6 linked regions of the Homo sapiens genome follow. The protein of the gene in region 1 purifies or fractionates together with the protein of each later gene. This does not show direct contact. Each region holds a gene or a part of one and is shown in the gene's direction. Other genes may lie near its edges. The genes, in order: ANGPTL4, NMT1, MKLN1, ARMC8, DNAJB4 and SNAP29.

The links.
Region 2: the proteins of ANGPTL4 (region 1) and NMT1 purify together in Homo sapiens (affinity purification with mass spectrometry; 2 studies listed by BioGRID and IntAct, with this or other methods). This does not show direct contact.
Region 3: the proteins of ANGPTL4 (region 1) and MKLN1 purify together in Homo sapiens (affinity purification with mass spectrometry; one large-scale study listed by BioGRID and IntAct). This does not show direct contact.
Region 4: the proteins of ANGPTL4 (region 1) and ARMC8 purify together in Homo sapiens (affinity purification with mass spectrometry; 2 studies listed by BioGRID and IntAct, with this or other methods). This does not show direct contact.
Region 5: the proteins of ANGPTL4 (region 1) and DNAJB4 purify together in Homo sapiens (affinity purification with mass spectrometry; one large-scale study listed by BioGRID and IntAct). This does not show direct contact.
Region 6: the proteins of ANGPTL4 (region 1) and SNAP29 purify together in Homo sapiens (affinity purification with mass spectrometry; one large-scale study listed by BioGRID and IntAct). This does not show direct contact.

What each region holds. Positions count from the first base shown.
Region 1 is NC_000019.10:8,367,155-8,370,654, forward strand, and holds part of ANGPTL4 (angiopoietin-related protein 4 isoform a precursor), read left to right. Parts: intron 1-2,064; coding exon 2,065-2,178; intron 2,179-3,500. UniProt on the Homo sapiens protein: Mediates inactivation of the lipoprotein lipase LPL, and thereby plays a role in the regulation of triglyceride clearance from the blood serum and in lipid metabolism. May also play a role in regulating glucose homeostasis and insulin sensitivity.
Region 2 is NC_000017.11:45,064,317-45,067,816, forward strand, and holds part of NMT1 (glycylpeptide N-tetradecanoyltransferase 1), read left to right. Parts: intron 1-3,500.
Region 3 is NC_000007.14:131,334,376-131,337,875, forward strand, and holds part of MKLN1 (muskelin), read left to right. Parts: intron 1-3,500. UniProt on the Homo sapiens protein: Component of the CTLH E3 ubiquitin-protein ligase complex that selectively accepts ubiquitin from UBE2H and mediates ubiquitination and subsequent proteasomal degradation of the transcription factor HBP1.
Region 4 is NC_000003.12:138,242,801-138,246,300, forward strand, and holds part of ARMC8 (armadillo repeat-containing protein 8), read left to right. Parts: intron 1-2,287; coding exon 2,288-2,383; coding exon of another isoform or gene 2,384-2,449; exon of another isoform or gene 2,450-3,500. UniProt on the Homo sapiens protein: Component of the CTLH E3 ubiquitin-protein ligase complex that selectively accepts ubiquitin from UBE2H and mediates ubiquitination and subsequent proteasomal degradation of the transcription factor HBP1.
Region 5 is NC_000001.11:78,014,939-78,018,464, forward strand, and holds the end of DNAJB4 (dnaJ homolog subfamily B member 4), read left to right. Parts: intron 1-1,075; coding exon 1,076-1,309; 3' UTR 1,310-3,026; downstream 3,027-3,526. UniProt on the Homo sapiens protein: Probable chaperone. Stimulates ATP hydrolysis and the folding of unfolded proteins mediated by HSPA1A/B (in vitro).
Region 6 is NC_000022.11:20,862,007-20,865,506, forward strand, and holds part of SNAP29 (synaptosomal-associated protein 29), read left to right. Parts: intron 1-3,500. UniProt on the Homo sapiens protein: SNAREs, soluble N-ethylmaleimide-sensitive factor-attachment protein receptors, are essential proteins for fusion of cellular membranes.

The sequences.
Region 1 (3,500 bases):
AGGGTTCTCTCCTCCCCAAGCTCCCGCTCCTTCCCACCTCCGTGCTGCCCGCCCCCAACCCCGCCAGGCTAGCATCTCAGCGTGGTCAGGGTCCTGTCCACCCTCCCAAAGCCACCATCCCAGGATGAGGGGCTTCTGGAGGGTGACGGGGGAAGGCACAAGTCCTGGCTGGGAAATGCGGTGGAAGGGGGCAGGGGTTCTGTGGGTTCGGGACTCCCAGACTCTTGGCTCAGGCCCGCCAAGTAGGAGAAAGTTCAGAGCTGGGAAGGCGAACAGCTGGCATTCATGGAAGCCACACTGGTGGTTTGGCCGCGTGCCCATCCTTACTGGATGGGAGGAAAGTAGGGGAAAGGGGAGATGCCTGAGGGGCCGGAAAGCGTCTTCCTGGTCACTCTGGGCCCGCCCCCACCCCCACCGTGCAGACTCATTTCGACCTTTCCCCTACTTTTCCGGCTGGGCTGGGGGCGGTTCCTCCCAGTCTGGAGCGTCTGAGCCTCCAGACGTGCTCAACGCCATCCTCCCCTCCTCCCTCCCTCTTTCTTTCCTCAACCCTGCCTCCTCTCCCTCTAGGAGCTGGGACCCCAGGCAGAGCCTCTGAGATGCTCCTGCTCAGCACAGTTCTTCCCGTTCTGGACCTGCTGCCTCATTCATTCATTCATTCATTCATTTGTCAAGACTGTTTTGTTTGCTTTTTGAGACGGAGTCTCGCTCTGTTGTCCAGGCTGGAGTGCAGTGGCGCAATCTCAGCTCACTGCAACCTCTGCCTCCCACTGGGTTCAAGTGATTCTCCTGCCTCAGCCTCTCAAGTAGATGGGATTATAGGCGCCTACCGCCACCACGCCCAGCTAATTTTTATTCATTTATCAAGTCTTTTTTTTTTTTGAGACAGAGTCTCACTCTGTCACCCAGGTTGGAGTGCAATGGTTCAACCTCAGCTGACTGCAACCTCTGCCTCCCGGGTTCAAGTGATTCTCCTGCCTCTGCCTCCTAAGGAGCTGGGATTACTGGCGTCCACCATCACACCCAGCTAATCTTTGTATGTTTTACTAGAGATGGGGTTTGGCCATGTTGACCAGGCTGGTCTCAAACTCCTGACCGATCCGCCCGCCTCCCAAAGTGCTGGATTACAGGCATGAACCACTGCGCCCGGCCCATTCCTCAAGTCTTTATTGAGCAGCTGCTATGCGCTGGGGCCTGCGTGGATGCTGGTGCCAGGCTGTGGGCAGAGCTGCTCCTTGTCCCCAGCCTCATGGAGCCTCCATTGAGTCAGAGGAGAGACCATTAGATGACCTCAGTGTCCAGGAGTGGGAAGTCCTTGCTCAATTCCCATTTGGGGTGTTCTGGCCTGGTCTGGGGGTGAGGCAAGGCAGGGTGTCCTTCCAGAAGCTGGGACCCAGAGAGAGAAGTGAGGAAAGAGAGTCCCGCCGGGCGCAGTGGTTCACACCTGTAATCCCAGCACTTTGGGAGGCCAAGGCTGGCGGATCACGAGGTCAGGAGATCGAGACCAGTCTGGCCAACATGGTGAAACCCCCGTCTCTACAAATAATGCAAAAACTAGTCGGGCGTGGTGGCACATGCCTGTAGTCCCAGCTGCTCCGGAGGCTGCGGCAGAATTGCTTGAACCTGGGAGGCGGAGGTTGCAGTGAGCCAAGATTGCGCCACTGCACTCCAGCCTGGCGACAGAGCGAGACTCCGTATCAAAAAACAAAACAAAAAAAGAGAGTCCCAGGCAGGGGGAACAGCATGTGCAAAGTCCCTGTGGCAGGACGGTGTGTGGTACAAGGGTGGGAAGAAAGCCTGTGTGCCAGAGAGGGTGTGGGTACAGCATGGCAGGAGGAGGATGGGCACGGGGGCTGGTCCTCCAGGTGCCTTGTGGACCATGCTGAGGAAGGACATAGGGAGCCATGGAAGAGGTTAGGCAGATGGCAGAGAGGTGGTCATGAGATAAGATTTGCCTTTTACTTCCCTGGTCATCCACTGTTAAGCCCCCAGATATGCCTGGCTCCTGAGACCCCCCCCAGGGGCTGCCCTCCTGTTTCAAGTCTCCACTTTATCTCCCTTCAGGGCTGCCCAGGGATTGCCAGGAGCTGTTCCAGGTTGGGGAGAGGCAGAGTGGACTATTTGAAATCCAGCCTCAGGGGTCTCCGCCATTTTTGGTGAACTGCAAGATGACCTCAGGTAGGGTGTGTTAGTCCACCAGGGGCCCCTCTCCCCATAGGCCCTGTTGTCTTTCTTTAAATTGAAAACAAAACAAAACAAAAAAATTAAAGGCAGGGTCTTGCTATGTTGCCCAAGCTGGTCTTTTTTTTTTTTTTTTTTTTTGAGATGGAGTTTTGCTCTTGGAGCTGGAGTGCAATGCCACGATCTCAGCTCACTGAAACCTCCGCCTCCCGGGTTCAAGCAATTCTCCAGCGTCAGCCTCCCCAGTAGCTGAGACTACAGGTGCGAGCAACCACACCCAGCTAATTTTTGTATTTTTAGTAGAGACTGGGTTTCACCATGTTGGTCTGGCTGGTCTCAAACTCCTGACCTCAAATGATTTGCCGACTTTGGCCTCCCAAAATGCTGGGATTATAGGCATTAGCCACTGCTCCTGGCCTCTTTTCTTTAAAATGCAGCCCTTGTCTGGGTGTAGTGGCTCATATCTGTAATCCCGACACTTTGGGAGGCCTATCATGAGGATCACTTGAGCCCAGAAGTTCGAGACCAGCCTGGACAACATAGTGAGAGCTCATCTTTACAAAAAATTTTGTAAAAGTAAAAAAAAAGGCCAAGTGCAGTGGCTCACACCTGTAATCCCAGCACTTTGGGAGGTTGAGGCAGACAGATCACGAGGTCAGGAGTTCGAGACCAGCCTGACCAACATGGTGAAACCCCGTCTCTACTAAAAATACAAAAATTAGCCGGGCATGGTGGTGTGCACCTGTAATCCCAGCTACTCAGGTGGCTGAGGCAGGAGAATCTCTTGAACCTGGGAGGCAGAGGTTGCAGTGAGCTGAGATGACGCCACCGCACTCCAGCCTGGGCGACAGAGCGAGACTCCGTCCCCCCATCAAAAAAATAAAAAAGAGAAAATAAAATAAAATAAAATAAAATTCAGCCCTTGCTGGGCATGGTGGCACATGCCTGTAGTCCCAGCTACTCGGGAGGCCAAGGCAGGAGGGTCACTTCAGCCCAGGAGTTAAAGGCTGCCGTGAGCCGTGATCACACCTGTGAATAGCCACCGCACTCCAACCTGGGCAACACAACAAAACCTCGTTTCTAAAAAAAAACAAAGGCTGAGCACGGTGGCTTACACCTGAAATGCCAGCACTTTGGGAGGCTGAGGCGGGCAAATCACTTGAGGTCAGAAGTTCAAGACCAGCCTGGCCAACATGGTGAAACCCTATCTCTACCAACATAAACATTAGCCGGGCGTGCCTGTGATTCCAGCTGCTTGTGGGGCTGAAGCACAAGAATCGCTTGAGCCCCGAAGGCAGAGGTTGCAGTGAGCTGAGATT
Region 2 (3,500 bases), on another chromosome or scaffold:
AAATCTAAAGATCTGTGAAAATGAGTTTGGAGGTAGTAGGTGAAAAACCAAGGGCCTAGTCTGGAGGAGAGAGTCTAATTCTGGCACTAAGAATCTGGGGTAGAGTCAACATTTTTCCATGAACTTTGAGAGGAAATGGTTTTGGGGAGAAGCAGCAATGTGGGAAAATGCAGCACGGCACAGTAGAAAAGCATGGACTTTGGAATAATTTAAATCTGGTCTGAGGCCAGGCGCGGTGGCGCACATCTGTAATCCCAGCACTTTGGGAGGCTGAGGTGGGCAGATCGCTTGTGGTCAGGAGTTTGAGACCAGCCTGGCCAGCATAGTGAAACCTCATCTCTACTAAAAATACAAAAATTAGCTGGGCATGATGGCAGGCGCCTGTAATCCTAGCTACTTAGGAGGCTGAGGCAGGAGAATCACTTGAAAACAGGAGGCAGAGGTTGCACTGAGCTGAGATCTCTCCAGTGCACTCCAGCCTGGGCGACAGAGCAAGCCTCTGATCTCAAAATCTCATCTCAAAGCTTGGCTCTGACACTTAACAGTCCTGTGACCTTGGGAAAGGTACTTAACTCAGAGTTGTAGGGATTAATGAGATAACATCTGGAATGCACTCCTTTTCCTCCCTCCTCCTCTTTCTTCAGATCGTCCCTAACCTCCCAGCTTGCCCCTCTGCTCTTATCACATACTGTATTGTAGCTTTTATCGTAACAATAGTTATAATAACAATAAATATAACTACATGTTTGGTAATTTTTCTTAATGTGTCTGGTACCTGTCTCATCTGACAGTAAGGAGCATGTAAACAGGATTGTGTCTTCGAAATGCCTAGCACTTAGTGGGCATTAATGAGTATTTGCTGTATGAATGAATGGCAGATATTAAAGTGCCTAGCCCAGTATTAGTGGAGTTTCATCTCCCCTCACCAAGTGAGAGGATGTCAGATTTTTCTTACATACACATTTTCTCTCCCCAAATAATTCTCATTGTAAGCCTCACTACAGTTTTTATGAAATACCTACAGAGGCAGGGCATGGTGGCTCACACCTGTAATCCCAGCACTTTGGGAGGCTAAGGCGGGCGGGATCATGAGGTCAGGAGATCGAGACCATCCTGGCTAACACAGTGAAACCCCATCTCTAATAAAAATACAAAAAATTAGCCAGGTGTGGTGGCGCATGCCTGTAGTCCCAGCTACTCGGGAGGCTGAGGCAGGAGAATGGTGTGACCCTGTGAGGCGGAGCTTGCAGTGAGCCGAGATTGCGCCATTGCACTCCAGCCTGGGCGACAGAGCCAGACTCTGTCTCAAAAAAAAAAAAAAAAAAAAAGAAATACCTACAGAAACCAGGAAGCTCCAATTTGCTGTGGAGCTTTCCACTGTTGTGTGCTTTCCACTGTGTTTTGCTTCTTGAAATGTTTTTTGTCTTAATATTATTTAAAATGTTCTCAAAAATCATGTAAAAATTGACAGAGAAGTTTTCCTTTCAATGCTAGAGAGTCTAAAATGTGTAATATATAATAAAGGTTAATGATAGTTCGAGCTAACCCTTATTCTCCTGGGCCTTTTTTTTTTTTTAAAGAGACTGTGTCTCGCTATGTTGCTCAGACTAGTCTCAAACTCCTGGGTTCAAGTGATCCTCCTGCCTTAGCCTCCCAAAGTGCTGGGATTGTAAGCATGAGCCACCACACCCAGCCTCCTGCCCCTTTTTTTCAGGAACTAAAGTCATAGTACTCTATGCTAATAAAATGAGCTAAATTCATGTACTGGATTCTGTTGCCCGGGCTGGAGTGCTGTGGCGCGATCTTGGCTCACTGCAACCTCTGCCTCCCGGGTTCAAGAAATTCTCCTGCCTCAGCCTCCTGAGTAGCTGGGACTACAGGAGCACACTGCCACACCCGGCTAATTTTTCATATTTTAGTAGAGACGGGGTTTCACCGTTGTTGCCCAGGCTGGTCTTGAACTCCTGAGCTCAGGCAATCCACCTGCCTTGGCCTCCGAAAGTGCTAGGATTACAGGTGTGAGCCACCACGCCCGGCCAGTTGTATTAGTTACTTATGTCTCTTTGTATATGAATTTAGTTCTTGACTTTTCTGGTCTTGTGTTTCCTCCGTAATTAAATCAGCATAAACATTTGGTGAATATAAAACTTCATGTGGTTGTGTGTAGTGGCTCATGCCTGTAATCTCAGCACTTTGGGAGGCTGAGGCAGAAAAATCACTTGAGCTCAGGAGTTCGAGACCAGCCTGGGCAACATGGTGAGACCCCATCTCTATAAATAAAAACAAAAAAACCCAAACCCTTCATGTATACATATAGGTATACATGCATACATATGCAGTGTGTATGGGTGCGTCTCTTCAGTTTTTCTATTTAAAAATTTTTTAATTTAATTTTAAAATTATTGTTATTACTTTGGAAACAGGGCCTCGCTCTGTCGTCCAGGCTATAGTACAGTGGTGTGATCATGGCTTACTGCAGCCTTTGACCTGGGCTCAAGCGATCCTCCCACCTCAGCCTCCCAAGTAGCTAGGATTGTAGACATGCACCATCATCCCTGGCTAATTTTCTTTTTAAAAAGTTTCTGTAGAGATGGGGTCTCACTATTTAGCCCAGGCTGGTCTCAAACTGCTGGCCTCAAGTGATGCTGCCACCTTGGCCTCCCAAACTGCTGGGATTGTGGGCATAAGCTCCTGCATCCAGCTGGTTTTGTTTGTTTTTTTACTGCACTCAATTTCCCCCAGTTACGTGCCTAGCGTAATTATCCTGAACAATTGAGAGGAGAGTCAGATAAGATAACCTTTATGCAGCATCCCCCTGTAGTTCGTGATTCATCTATATGGTTTAATTTGATTTTTTTTTTTTTTTAATGAGAGTCTTTCCAAGAAGTATTGCCAAAGAATAAATCTCATCAGTTGGCAGATTTTAATTTGGGGGTAATAAGTGAAGATTGTCTGAGTGTTTTGGAACAAAAAAGAACTTTTAGACTATTGTGTTCTAGGAATCTTTCGGAATTTATTTTGCAGTGTCTTCAGTGTCATTGAGATCCTGGTAAGCACGGGTCAAGAGCCCTCTGACAAGAGGTGTCTCATCTCCATCCTGCTCTCTTACTCCCTGGGACAGGTTAACATGGATTCTTTATAAGTTCTCCTCATTTCCTGGTTGTGAGATACTATCCCTTATGAAAACTTAGGAGGAGAGAAAAGTCTTTCTGAAAATAAATTCCATAAAGCTAGCCTTACTTGTTTTTGTTTTTTTCTTCAGCTTCTCCAAGAGTCGTTCTTTCCCTATTTATTTGATGGCTTATAGCTGCAGCTAGCTCTTGGAAATAAGAAATCTTTTTAGTTCCTTTTTAATTTCTCCCTTCAACTTTTGGTTTTTCAAAACTAGATCAAAGCAGAATGGAAAGAGAAACCTCATCACTGATATCAAATAAGTGTTCTAATTTTGTTTCCCAATTAAATGGCAATTAAAAAGAAACTAATCAAGAGCTGCTTCAAAG
Region 3 (3,500 bases), on another chromosome or scaffold:
TGTGTTTTTCAGTCTGGGACTCTTAGAACTTCAGAAAAATAAAAACACTCAAGATGGAAGAAATGTACTCAGGATGAGAATTTGAGTCTACAGAGCTGATTCCTAGAATTAGATATTTGTGACTTTTGGCAAGTTATGATTCTTTTCTGAGCGTCAGTTTCTTGTGTAGAAATACTTTTTATCTTGATCAAATGTTGAGAGGTTTATGTACAATTTTTTGGGCACATGGGTAAATGGTTCTATTATTTGCGTTAACTTTTAGGTAAATATTTAAATAGATTTTTAATAAATGATTTTTGGCCTGATACAAAGACTTTGTGATGTTTTACGTGTAGATAAGATACATTTCAGCCACTTGTGGCAATGAGTTTGCTGTATTTCAGTCATTCAAAAATCGTTTTTGGAAATATGAAAGATTTTCTAGACTTTAATTTTAGAGATACAGCTATTTATAGACATTTTAATATGTATAAAATGTTTCAAAGAATGTACAGTTGAGAATTTAGAGATCCCTAATTACTGTTTGTTTATAATACCATTTGTCAGAAATCTCTGATAAGAGACAATAGAAAATTTATAAAATTTCTAGGTCTTTATAGGTTCAATCTTAGGATAGTTGATCCGGGTATCTTCTCTGCTACCGGATTTCCCAGGGCTTGTTTTGTGAATGGCTGGTTCTGTAGATTGTTGCTTATTAAGGGGTGGTCAGATAAAGCTCTGAGAAGTCCAGCAGTATTAAAATCTATTAATATGGGGGACTTTTGAAGAAAATATTTTTTAACATCTTTGCACATTGGGAAGATGTTTCAGTTAGAAAATTTTTTTGTTGTTGTTTAATGAGAACTTCAGGACTTGGTTACGAATATTTCTAAAAATCTGTGAAGTCAAAGTAACATTCTGTAGAATACTGTGTATGTATATTTATGCTGTAGATAAACAAAGATATTGTTTGTTTAATGGGTTTTGCTTATGATGAAATTTTACTGATTAAGATTAATCCATGTTTAAAAAAGTATACAAAGAGAAAGGAAATATCATAGTCATTATCTAGGAATAATTTAAGTAGTCTAATATAAATCTGTCCCTAAAAAAGTTGTTGAATGGCAGCTAACTAGATTGAAGTACCCTAACATAACTTATATTTTGAATTGGTTGTTAATAATAATTGGAAAACTAGGCTATGTTTAGTCCTAAGACTATAGGGTTTCCTCTCAACACATTTTAGCTGTATCCCACAAATTGTGGTATGTTACATGTTCATTATCATTTATGCAAAAATGTTTTTCAGATTTTATTTTGGCTTATTCTTTGACCTGTAGGTTTTTTTTTTTTTTTAACAAATGTATTGCTTACTTTTTGAACGTTTGGGGATTTGCTAGTTATCTTTCTGTTACTAATTTCTTAATTTCACTATGATTAGAGAACACACTCTGAATAGTTTCAGACCTTTATTGATACTTATTTTATGGCTCAGCATTTTTATAAATGTTTATGTACCCTTGAAAAGACTATGCATTCTGCTGTTAACTACTGTCTTCTATGTACTTTGTTAAGTTCAAGTTTGTAAATTGTGTTATTGTGTTGTACAAATCTTCTCTATCCTTACTGAATTTTTTTTTTTTTGCCTTTTTTTCTATTCATTACAGAGAGAGGTGTCTTGAGGTTAAGTGTCAAATGTGTCTTACTGTGATTGTGGATTTGTATATTTCTCCTTTTAGTTCTATAAAGAACTAAACTGTATGCTTTATGTATTTTGAAGTCATATTACTAGGCACATACAAACTTATCTTTCTAGTACATTGGCTCTTTATCATTATAACATGTCCCTTTTTATCTCTAGTAACACTTGTCTCTCGCCTCAAAGTCTTCTTAGCTACACCTGCTTTATTTTGGCTGCTGTTTGCTTGCATGGTAAAACTTTCTCTCTCCTTTTTGCTTTTAATGCTCCTGTAGCTTTATATTTGGGGTCTGTTTCTTGTTAAGAATAAACAGATTTTTGTTTGCCTGTTTTTAATTAAATCTGAAATATATTTAGCTCATTAATGGTAAATATAATTATTGATAAATTTGGGTTTATGTCTGTCATTTTATTGTTTTCTGTTTGTCCTACTTGTTCTATATTCTATTTTCTCTCCATTGTTGCCTTCTTTTGGATTAATCAAGTGTTTTAAAAATATTATTTTATTCCTCCCTTTGTTAGCTTGTTAGTTATATATTCTGTTACTGTTCTTTTGGTGGTTACGCTAGATCACCACAAGCTTTCTTGTGGTACATTAGAGTTGCATATTCATTAGGATTTTGAAAAACAACATCTCAGACATTGTTAGGACCCTAGAAAACTTTAATAGCATTTATCACTCTCCTGCTTTTATGTTGTCATTGTCATGCATTTCACGTCTACATTTAAATCCAGAGACTGTTGTTTTGTACAGTTAATATTTACCCTTTCCATTGTTCTTTATTTCCTTTTGTATTTACATGCTTCCATCTGAGATTAATTTTCCTCTGTCTGAAGAACTCCTTTTAGGGAGTTTGGTGGTACTGAATTCTCAGTTTTTGCTTGTTTGAAATTTATTTATTTTCATCTTTGAAGAATATATTAAATGACTGTACAGTTCTACATTATTAGCTGTTATTTTCTTGAAGCACTTTAAAGATCTCAGTTCATTGTCTTCTAGCTTCCATTGTTTCTGTTGCAAAATCAGCCGTCAGACTTACTGTTGCTTCTTGGAAGGTAGTATGACTTTCTTGTTCAGCTGCCTTTCTTTTTGTCATTCTCTTTTTCTTTAAGTTTAAACAGCTTTCAGTGATGCACCTAAGAATGGTTTTGTTTGTACCCTGTTTGGCGTTTCTGGCACCTCTTGAATTTGTAGTATGACTGATCAGCTGTGAAAAAATTTTGACTTTTTAAAAATATTGTTTCTGCCCCATTTTTGTCTCCTTTGCTCTGTGACTCCAATTAAATCTTTATTATACTTTTTATCCCCCATATGTCTCCTGCTCTCTTCTGTTATTTTTATGATTTTTTTCCTCCTCTTATCCGTTCTGGATAGTTTTTACTTGACTGTATTTCAGTTCACTTATTCTGAATTTAACTATGTCCAATCTGCTTTTTAACCCCATCTATTCTTAATTTTAGTTATAGTATTTTTTAGTTTTAGAATTATTTCATCCTCTCTTTTTAAGATAGATTCTAATTATGTGAAAATCTCTTGTCATGTATTTTTTGAGCATATTAATCAAATTGCTTTAAAGTCTGTGTCTGAAAACTTCAATATCTGTATCACCTATAGGCCTATTTCCATCATCTCTTTCCTTTTGATTTTGCATCTTGTTAGGCCAAATAATAATAATAGTTAATATATTTGTATATTAATGTATGTTAATTATATATTCTATTGTATATTATATAAATTATTACATGTGGATAATAACATAATAGTAATAATTATTATTAGGCAATTTTTTGATGGAGTGCCAGACATTATATGCAGAATTTT
Region 4 (3,500 bases), on another chromosome or scaffold:
GTTGTTCATTTGGCTTTTAACTTTGAAAATAAAGCAAACTATTAAGGGTATATCTTTACTCTGTCTTAAGAAGGGCCTAAAATAACCTTCACTGGTATTTGTATTAGTAATGTACTCTACTCTCTGGGTATTAAACTTATGTGTCTGCTCTTCTTTCAGTAGTGGTGTTTTTCCAGTAGAAGTGATGGGTTACATACATTTAACCAGTTGCCTTGTCTGTTTTCCTTCTGGTCATTTTTTCACACTGACACTGTATCTTACCAATACAAAGATACATGAGCAACCCTTAGCTACTGCCTCATGAACGCCCTGAGTTGACCACCCCAGGAAGGCAAATAAAATGTTTTGATGGCCATGAGAGTAAGGAAACAATTTTAAGAACATGTAGCCTATGCATATGCAAATCATTTAACTAGTACGTAGATTATCCCTTCTGTTAGTTTTTCCATTTCATTTCCATCAGAGTAAAACTGTAACAACAATAATCCTTAAAAATGACATCGTAATACCAAACTTGAGTAATAGTTTGTTTTGTCATCTTTATTTTTGATGATGGATTATCCAAAGGTTTCTGACCCGAAAAGTATAGACACTAGACCCGTAAAGAGAAATCTTCACATGTTAATAAATTTGTGATTTTCATGATATGTTAGTTCAAGTCAGTATTATATCTTAATTTATGACTAGAATGTAGTTAAGACTTTAAGAGTAGATACTTTTAGAACTTATCAAAGTGAGTATTCTGTATTGGGAAGTTCTTCCTATAATCCATCAGTGTCTGCTTTGAACAGAAGTTTTGGAACTATTAAGAATTGCCTTCAGAGCCACCCCAAATTATATATATATGTAAAATATATATATTGTCTTTTGCTTTCTGTGGAATTTTTTGTTACCTACGTTATATTACCCAACTGAATTTCTCCATCTTCACACACAGTCAGTGACAACTAAAAGTCTCATCATTGATCAAGCTATACCACTGTCAGTGTTTTCTAGCTAATAATACCAGTTAGCTCTTTAGGAAGTTTCAAAAGAGGGTCTCAGAATGTTATGAACAACACCTACATCATTGGATGAGTGAACCTTTCCAAAGTAACTTCTTTGGGAAAAGTGGTATTCATTTGGATGATTACATTAAGGCTTTTAGTTACGAGGTTATTTATATTATTGGTAGACTTTGTATAGTTACTTGGTCATAGTCAGTCATTGAAAGTATCCTGAAAATATGCTTCTGTTTTATCTTTACAGTAGTTTGGTGATCAAGTTTATAGAAGAGTTGATAATTAGTTATGCATGTTTAAAGATACCATTAATTGCTTCATGCTGATAATTTTGATAATGTTCTTGAAAAAACCCATACCCAACATAAATCTCAGATAACTGTAATAGATAATAATGGTTACCATAGTATACGGTTTGTTAAGCATTTTCACAATGGGTTCTCTGTTTCTAAAAGCTTTTTATTTTATTTATTTTTATTTATTTATTTATTTTTGAGATGTAGTCTCGCTCTGTTGCCCAGGCTAGAGTGCAGTGGCGCGATCTCGGCTCACTACAACCTCTGCCTCCTGGGTTCACACCATTCTCCCGCCTCAGCCTCCCAAGTAGCTGGGACTACAGGCGCCTGCCACCACGCCCAGCTCATTTTTTTGTATTTTTAGTAGAGACAGGGTTTTATCGTGTTAGCCAGGATGGTCTAGATCTCCTGACCTCATGATCCATCTGCCTCGGCCTCCCAAAGTGCTGGGATTACAGGCGTGAGCCACCGCGCCCGGCCTCTAAAAGCTTTTTAAATGCCAAAATTAGGCCAGCACTACTCTTAATGTTTCAGAAAATTAAGGGAACCCTCCTAAAGACATTGTTGCGATTTCATTCAGGTTATCAGCTGTAGTCTGGGGCTAGAGAAGTCCAGGTGTGCCTTCTTTTGAAGGAGAACATTTCAAAGAGCTGCTGCAAGCAAGCATTAGTGCCAGTAAAGCTACCATTTAGGAACACTGAATTTTTCGGAGTCAGAGATTCACAATGGTTTTTCATATATCAGTGTCAAATATAGTGTTCACTTTTAAATGGAAGCATATTGTGTGCATTTTAGGTCACATTGATACGAACACTGCAAAGTCTCAGTGCTATGTGAACAGAATCCAAAAATAACTGGGAAATGTAGTTAATGACTGGGAAATTCACTAAAATCTAAAAGTTGTAAACTTTTTTTTTCTTCAACTCAGTTAATGTTATTGAAAGTTGAATTTATGGACTGAGTTGGAACATATCCTTTTTTTCCCCATAGCTTGATCATGATTTAAAACATGCTCACGAACTCCGCCAGGCTGCATTCAAGCTCTATGCCTCTCTTGGAGCAAATGATGAAGACATCCGGAAGAAGGTGAGTCTGGGAGAGGGGCGTCCCCCAGTCCTGACAGCCAGCAGGCAGGGAGTGACGTCAACCTGAAAGTCGTGGTGAAGAGCACTAACAGTGACTGTTTGAATATAATAAAGCAGAGTGACTAAAGGCATAATTGAAGAATGAATGGGACCCGGATTTGGGGGGTTGTTTGTTTGTTTTTAGAACATAGAGTGGCATGGCCGTGCTGGAATGACAAATAACTGGCGTGCTTTTTTTTTGTGTCATTAATATGAATTATTATGTTGCACATTTTTGCATGTGTTCTGATAAAAATCAATTCTAGCACTGTGAAGCTTCAGACACCTTGAAAGTCCTAACATTAGAATTGTAAATGTTATTTATGGAAATACCTTCCAATGCTATTGAGAAATTCAAATCTCTATTGTATATTGTTCTTTGATATGTGGCTTAGTTTTATGTTTTGATTTTTTTTGCTACTGTGCAAGTTTAATGTGAATAAAATCTTTGTGGAATGATGATTTTATGTTTAGTGAGTGGTCATCTGAATTTTCCAGCTCCCCAGAAAATGTATGCACTGGTATAGCACCCTTATGTTACTAAAGCCTAGTCTAACACTGAACTCATGTTCTTGATGAGAATACTTCTAGATGAGGAGTATAGTGGTAAGTAAGCTCTGACTTGGCTCCTTCCACAAACCAAAAAGCTGGAACTTACCACTCAAAAACATGTATAACCTAATAAATTCTACACAAGGCTTTCAAGACCATCAGAGAGCAAAACCACATGTTCTGTCTTGAGGAGCCATAGCAGAAAGAGCAAATTAGTCATTATTTACTGAACATGATGATTTACTAAATCTCTCCATCTGCATTAGTATTTTAAGGAGCACTGTGAGAGAAATCACAAAGTATTAGAGTTTACCATGATTCAGAGAAGTTCTTCAGGCCTGTAGAAAGAGGAGTATGGAACAACCTTACATTTGTTGAAATAACTTGAAAAGGAACCATTTCTTGAAGAAACTGAAGTAATAGCAATAAGATTTGATGTGTGAGTAGCTTTGATTTAAAATCAATGCAAAAAGCACAACTAATAAATTGAATGTTTCCATGTACCTCACTTTATTTCAGTTAACAAG
Region 5 (3,526 bases), on another chromosome or scaffold:
CTCTATGGAACACTATTGTTTCTTACCCTGCTCTAATACCTACCTGCTACTGCCCAATGCTTAGTTCAAGCATCCTCTACTCCCGGAATCTAAGGGGTTAAGTTGGGTGCTCTTTCTCTTACAAAAGACCTCCATGCTTACCTCTGTTCTTACACTATACAGTATTATAATGGCTAGTTTGCTTCTATGTTTCTGTGAGTTCCTTGTGCATTCCTTGAGCTGGGGTCTGTGTTCATGGTCCCTATAAGGCTCACCATCTAGCCAGAATGTGTGGCATATAGTAAATGCTCAGTAAACATTTGTTATCTAAAACAAATATATTTCTTGTCCTAATACTTTCCAGAGAAATAGTTGCTCCTATCCAGTTCTTTCTAGTCCTGAATTTCTCCCTCTTCTCCCATTCCAATCCCTGCATCTTGAATATATTAATAGCAGCTTCAAAATAACCATGTCATTCCAGGGCAATGTGGAATATATCCTTTACTTCTCTTTTACCTTTTCTTTTCTTCTTCTTTTTTTTTTTTTTTTGTAACATATCTAATAATGCATGTCCTGAAGGAATTTTCCTTTTTTTCTTTTCTTTTCTTTTTCTTTTTCTTTCTTTCTTTCTTCTTTTTTTTTTTTTTTTTTGAGACAGTTTTGCTCTTGTTGCCCAGGCTGGAGTGCAATGGCACGATCTCGGCTCACTGCAACCTCCGCCTGCTGAGTTCAAGTGATTCTCCTGCCTCAGCTTCCCGAGTAGCTGGGATTACAGGCATGTGCCACCACGCTCGCCTAATTTTGTATTTTTAGTAGAGACAAGATTTCTCCATGTTGGTGAGGCTGGTCTTGAACTCCTGACCTCAGGTGATCTGCCCGCCTTGGCCTCCCAAAATGTTGAGATTACAGGTGTGAGCCACCGTGCCTGACCTCTGAAGGAATTTTCTAATGAGGAAAAAAAATTTATAACTATTGTTATTCTTTTGGAGGTTAAAGTTTTACCTTAGTGGTATTATCCTTTACCATCTGGTAAAATTTGTGCTTAGATTTTTGAGTTTTGAAGTGTTTTCATTTTATTTTATTTGGTCCATTTTAGGCATTGTGTGGCTGCTCAATTAATGTACCAACACTGGATGGAAGAAACATACCTATGTCAGTAAATGATATTGTGAAACCCGGAATGAGGAGAAGAATTATTGGATATGGGCTGCCATTTCCAAAAAATCCTGACCAACGTGGTGACCTTCTAATAGAATTTGAGGTGTCCTTCCCAGATACTATATCTTCTTCATCCAAAGAAGTACTTAGGAAACATCTTCCTGCCTCATAGAATGAAGAACTTTGTTACACATATTTTGATAAGGCACTGAAAATATAAAAGGACTGGTAGTTTACTGATGTAGATGTGAATTCTGTATAAAGATGTGTAAATTCTTTTGAGGGTTCATTAAATTGCATGAATAGAGACGGGTCAAATAAATAGGCAAAAGGGATTTTTACAGTTAGAGATAAAAGAGAAAACCATTCACTGTATTTTATTTCATTTCTCCTGATTCAGATATTTTTAGTAATTTGCTTATATGTAAAAGTTGTTTTTGTGGAGTCAGTGGATATATTTCTAATGAAGTGCTAGACTATCCAATTACTTAATTTCTTATACCTTTAGATAATCAGTATGAAAAGTTCCCATTTATAATGGAAATGAAAATTCTTAACTAAACTATACATGTAATATGTATTTCTAGAAGAGAATAAAAACCCAAGTCAGTTATTAGATTTAAATCACCTTCTGAAATGCTGCTATAGGGCTGGTATCTGTAAAAGAATATCCTGATGCATCTGTTTCACCATTTTGATTTTTAAAGTATGCTGTAGCATTTCTTAATAACATCGTTGTGATGTTCTTAAGGCAGATCTTTCTTCATAAAAAGGAAAGTAATGGCAATTTCTCTCCTGTGGAAATCCCAATTGCTTGAATTACTGATATTTTAGAATAGACTTTTTAAAATGCCATATGTAATTTTATGCAAGTTGACTATATATCTTGTACTTAATAAATTATAGGCTCATTTTGTTCTCTGCTAGTTTAAAGTAATTCGTTTAATAATAGATGTGTTTTTAGAGGAAATGCTGTTACTTGGAATTAATTTTCCAGTTATACAGTCTTCTATAACTTACTAATAATATTCTATATGTACTTTATGTAATTTCCCTAAAAAGAATGAACTACCACTACACTATGGTGTTAAACCAAAATATAGGGAAAATAAACACTAACTGCTGCTTATGGATAATGTTGCAACTACTTGTTATGCATATAAATATTTTACTTTTTCACATGTATAGATTGCATTTCTTAGGTGTTTTAATTTTTTAAATATATTTATGTTTTAAAAATTTAGTTTTGTTTTCTGTTTTATAACTATAGTGAGAATGATGTTTTGAAGCAAAATTTTTGGTTATAAAATAGTTTTCAGGATTATATATATATATACTGGATCCTATCGCCTTTTAGTAGAATATGAAATATTCTTTTAGAAATCCAATATAAATAGGTTATAATAGCCATATTCTTTATTACTTTATTGAGATATAATTTACATGCCATAAAGTTTACCCTTAAAATATATAATTCAGTGGTTTTTAGTGATATTTACAAAGTGGTACAATCATCATCACTTTCTAATTCCAGAATATTTTCATCACCCCAAAAAGAAATCCTAAATCCATTAGCAGTTACTTCCCATTCTTCCCTTCCTCCAGCCCCTGAAAACACTACCATCTACTTTTCATCTGTATGGATTTGTCTGTTCTGGACATTTCACATAAATAGACTCAAACAATATATGGCTTTTTTTTTTTTTGGTCTGGCCTCTTTCATTTAGCTTAATGTTTTCAAGGTTCATCTATGTTGTATCACGTATCAGTACTTTATTTTTTGTGTGGCACGTCATATGGATATACCACAATTTGTTTATCTTTTCATTAATTATGGGCATTTGGCTTATTTCTACTTTTTTGGCTATTATAAATAATGCTGCTGTGAACATTTGTGTGCAAGTTTTTGTGTTTCAATTCTCATGGGTATATACCTAAAAGTGGAATTTCTGGGAGTAACCATATATTTGAGTTGCAAATGGAAAATGCTTGAAAAAAATGCCACAGAATTCAGCTAATCGTATTTATTACTCTAATTCATAAATGATTCCTCTATAACTGTCTCTCTGAATGACAGTTAAAACTCCCTACAGAAGTGTGAACATTACAGAAATTTTCTCACAAGTCTAAAGATCTAGATCTGAAAAGCATCAGTCAACGTGGTGAATGATAGTGGTTTCTGTTTTAAACCCATCATTATTTATTGCAATTTTCTTGATTAAGCATTTTCTCCCAGGTAAAATAAATGATTTATAGATAGATATATAATAATCTTTGGATTAAAAAGTTTTTTTAAGCAGAGAATTATTATTCTAGTAGTAAATAAATTTACATAACTACACAAAACCAGTATACCAGTATCTCTCTTATCTTAAAGGATATTGACAAT
Region 6 (3,500 bases), on another chromosome or scaffold:
TGATCTGCCCACCTCAGCCTCCCAAAGTGCTGGGATTACAGATGTGAGCCACTGCGCCCGGTCCTAACCTTGTTAGGGAGGTTTTGCCTGTAGTTCTTACATCTCATACCTACTGGATTCCTATGTTCCATTCTAAATGGGAAGTCTTGGCTTAGATTTGAGAGGATTGCCTGAGGTTTTAGGGCCCTGGTGAATGGGTCACATGATTGAGGATCTCAAGCCCAAGGAATTCAACTAACAACTATTTAAGGAGACATCTTTGTAAACTGAGAACAAATGAAGTAGGGAATCAATGATTCAAAGTAGGGCATTGTGGCAGAGGATAAACTTGAATCTAGCTTTTAAGGCTGAGGTTTACACAAGAGGAGTGAGAATGAGGGATGTTCTTAGGGAAGACAGGAAAATATGCAAATGCACTGGCCCAGCAACAGAGCTCCTGGGTCCAGAGGAGGGACATGATAGACTGGGTGTGTTAGAGGACAGGGGATGGAGGAGGTAGCTTAGGAGCCCTTGGAGGTCATAGGGAAAGTTCTGGTCTCATAGCGCAGGAGAGGCAAAAATGTAATAGTGGTGAGTTTGATATAGATTGTGATGACATGCCCCGTGCTGCCCCCAAAGGTCTTTCTATGCAGTGGGGACAGTGAGAGCTGAGGCAGAGTGGCACTTCAGGCATATCAGGCTTGGCCAGGCCAGGCATTGCTGTGAGAAGTACAGTGTGGTCATGACTGGGCAGGTGACAGGTGCTCTTGTCAGTGAGACAACATGTTGGAATTTTCCAGGATTGGGTCAGTTCTCAATTATGAGAAGCCCTGGGAGTCAGGGATGACCTACATCTCCACCACACCCAGTGTTCTCCAAGCTGTCTTTGTTTTTGTGTTTTGTTTTGGGGGAGGTTTTTTGAGATGGGGGTCTCACTCTGTCAACCAGGCTAGAGTGCCGTGGTGCAATCTTGGCTCACTGCAGCCTCTGCCTCCAGGTGCAAGTGATCCTCCTGCCACAGCCTCCCAAGTAGCCAAGACTACAGGTGCACGCCACCACACTCGACTAATTTTTGGTATTTTTGGTGGAGATGGGCTTTCGCCATGTTACCCAGGCTAGTCTCGAATTCCTGAGCTCAGATGATCTGCACACCTTGGCCTCCCAGTGCTGGATTACAGGCTCCAAGCTGTCTTTGAATCACTCTAATCACTCTTTCATTCCCTTTGGTGTTGGGATGGGAACAGAGGAGTATGAGCTCTTCCAACCCTCAGTGCACAGTGTGGCTTCCAGCAAATTCCAGCATACCCTGCTAATCACCCAACTTAGGTGCCTGGTTACCCCAGCACTGTGAAACATGCCAACACATGACAGATTTATGTCAAAGATGAGGACTTTACAAATTATATTAGGTTGGGAAGATTATAATTCAGTCCCAGCTTGGCAGGAAAATGGCTTAGTTAAGTCACCTCTAGCAAAGAGAGCTGCCCTTCTCCTACTGTGAAACCTGGCAAGGATTGTTTCTCACAAAGGCTCAGGCCACAGGCTATGACCACAAAAGAACAGAGGAGAAGTAGTGGGAGCAGGGCGGTTTCCCCAGGCCGACCTGGTAGGCGCTTTGTAGAACTACAGGGAGACTTGTAAGCCACTCGTCTCTTTCCCTGTTTAGTAAGCATGATTTCTTCTTTTTTTTTTCCTAAGGTTTAATTTTTATGAAGAGAGATTCCAATCACATGGTTCAAAATTTCAAAACATACAAAAGGGTGTAGTCTTCTCCCACTTCCCTCCCTATCATCCCTCTGCCCCTAAGGCAGCCAGGCACTTTCCCTCCTTCAGTGTTTTGGGGAGATAATGCCGTGGATAAAAATGGGTTTTTTTTTTTAAGTGAAGTATTGTATACATTCTGGTCTGCATGTGCTTAATAGAATGGAGTTTGTTCCACACTAGTATGTAATGAGCTGGGCTTTCTTTTTGGCTGTGTTGTATTCCATTGAACAAATGACTTCTATTTATGCAGCCTGTCCCCTAATGATGAGCATTGAGGTTGTTTACACCTTTTGGTGAGTCTATTTGCATCCTACTTGGACATGGTTTTTGTACACCTTTTCATCACTCCAGTGGAGGAGACTCACCTGCCCAGGACACTCTGCTTCCCCTCTTGTAGCTGAACTTAACTCCACTGAGGTTTTCTGGGGCCCGAGATCTCGGTTCAGGGGAGTCCAGCAACAAACATTAGACCAGGGTTGGAACGGCTGGCACAGTAACATCAATGGAAAGGGACAGAGTTTGAGAGTTCAAACGTGATGCACTCAGCAGCCACCGCCAGCACATCCTCCACACCGTCTCGTGCAGGGGCCCACCCATCTCTGTGTCTTTCCAGCACACAACAGTCACCCACACTGGGCATTCCATTCAGAGGTGGGAGAGAGGAGGACACCCCTCCTGGCCCAGGAGCAGAGGCCATCAAGGTGTCCCCGGAACTTAGAGTAGATACATTGCCAAAAGGTGATATCCTCATTCTCAGGGATTCTGGTCTTGGAGCAGCCCACTCCAAATGAGGGGCCGTACAGACCAAAGTCACCCCTCTGAGGCAGCGTGTGGTGATACTGATGCAGCCAGAGTTCTTAGCAAAAGTTGATGGATGGGGACAAGCAGCTGCTAGATTAAGTAATTCCTCAAATTTGTAAATGTCAGCAGTGGAAGAGGAGCAGTCTCTTACCCATCTCTTGCTCAACTTTCTACCCCCACGCTTCTCAGCACAATGTCCTTAAGCGTTATTGGCGCTCCCAAAATAGTTGCCAAATGAATAAGTGACCTGGGGAAGGAAAGGAAGGAGGGAGGGAACAGAAGATTGCCTGAAAAAGGAGGAGAGAGTTGGGTGGAAAGAATGCATTGAGCTGTGTGCCTTGGTTGCAATGCCTGTCCTGTGACCAGAAAATGCATCCCAACACATGTCAGGCTGTGTCTAGCAGGTGGGAGGGAGTCTGGTGGAGAAATGGCATTGGACCACATACTCACCGCTAGGTCTGTTCGGGATTTATTTTTAATTAATTTTTGGTAAACTATCAATGATTGAATTTGACCATTGATGGCCAGGTGTGGTGGCTCACACCTGTAATCCTAGCACTTGGGGAGGCTGAGGCAGGTGGATCCCTTGAACCCAGGAGTTCAAGATCAGCCTGGGGAATGTGGTAAAACCCTGGCTCTACAAAAAATACAAAAATTACCTGGGCATGGCGGTGCATGCCTGTAGTTCCAGCTACTCAGAAGGCTGAGGTAGGAGGATCTCTTGAACCAGGGAGGTCAAGGCTGCAGTGAGCTGAGGTCATGCCACTGTATTCCAGCCTGGGTGACAAAGTGAGACCCTGTCTCAAAAAAAAAAAAGAATTAGACCATTGATCCCAGGCCAATTTGCTGGCTTGTTGGCTGTAACAGGATGCCTTCTGAGGATGGGCTGGTTGTTCGAGCTTCTGGCTTCTCCTTCCTGGGCACATCCACTCACAGCTGCCACATTGTCCCAAGGA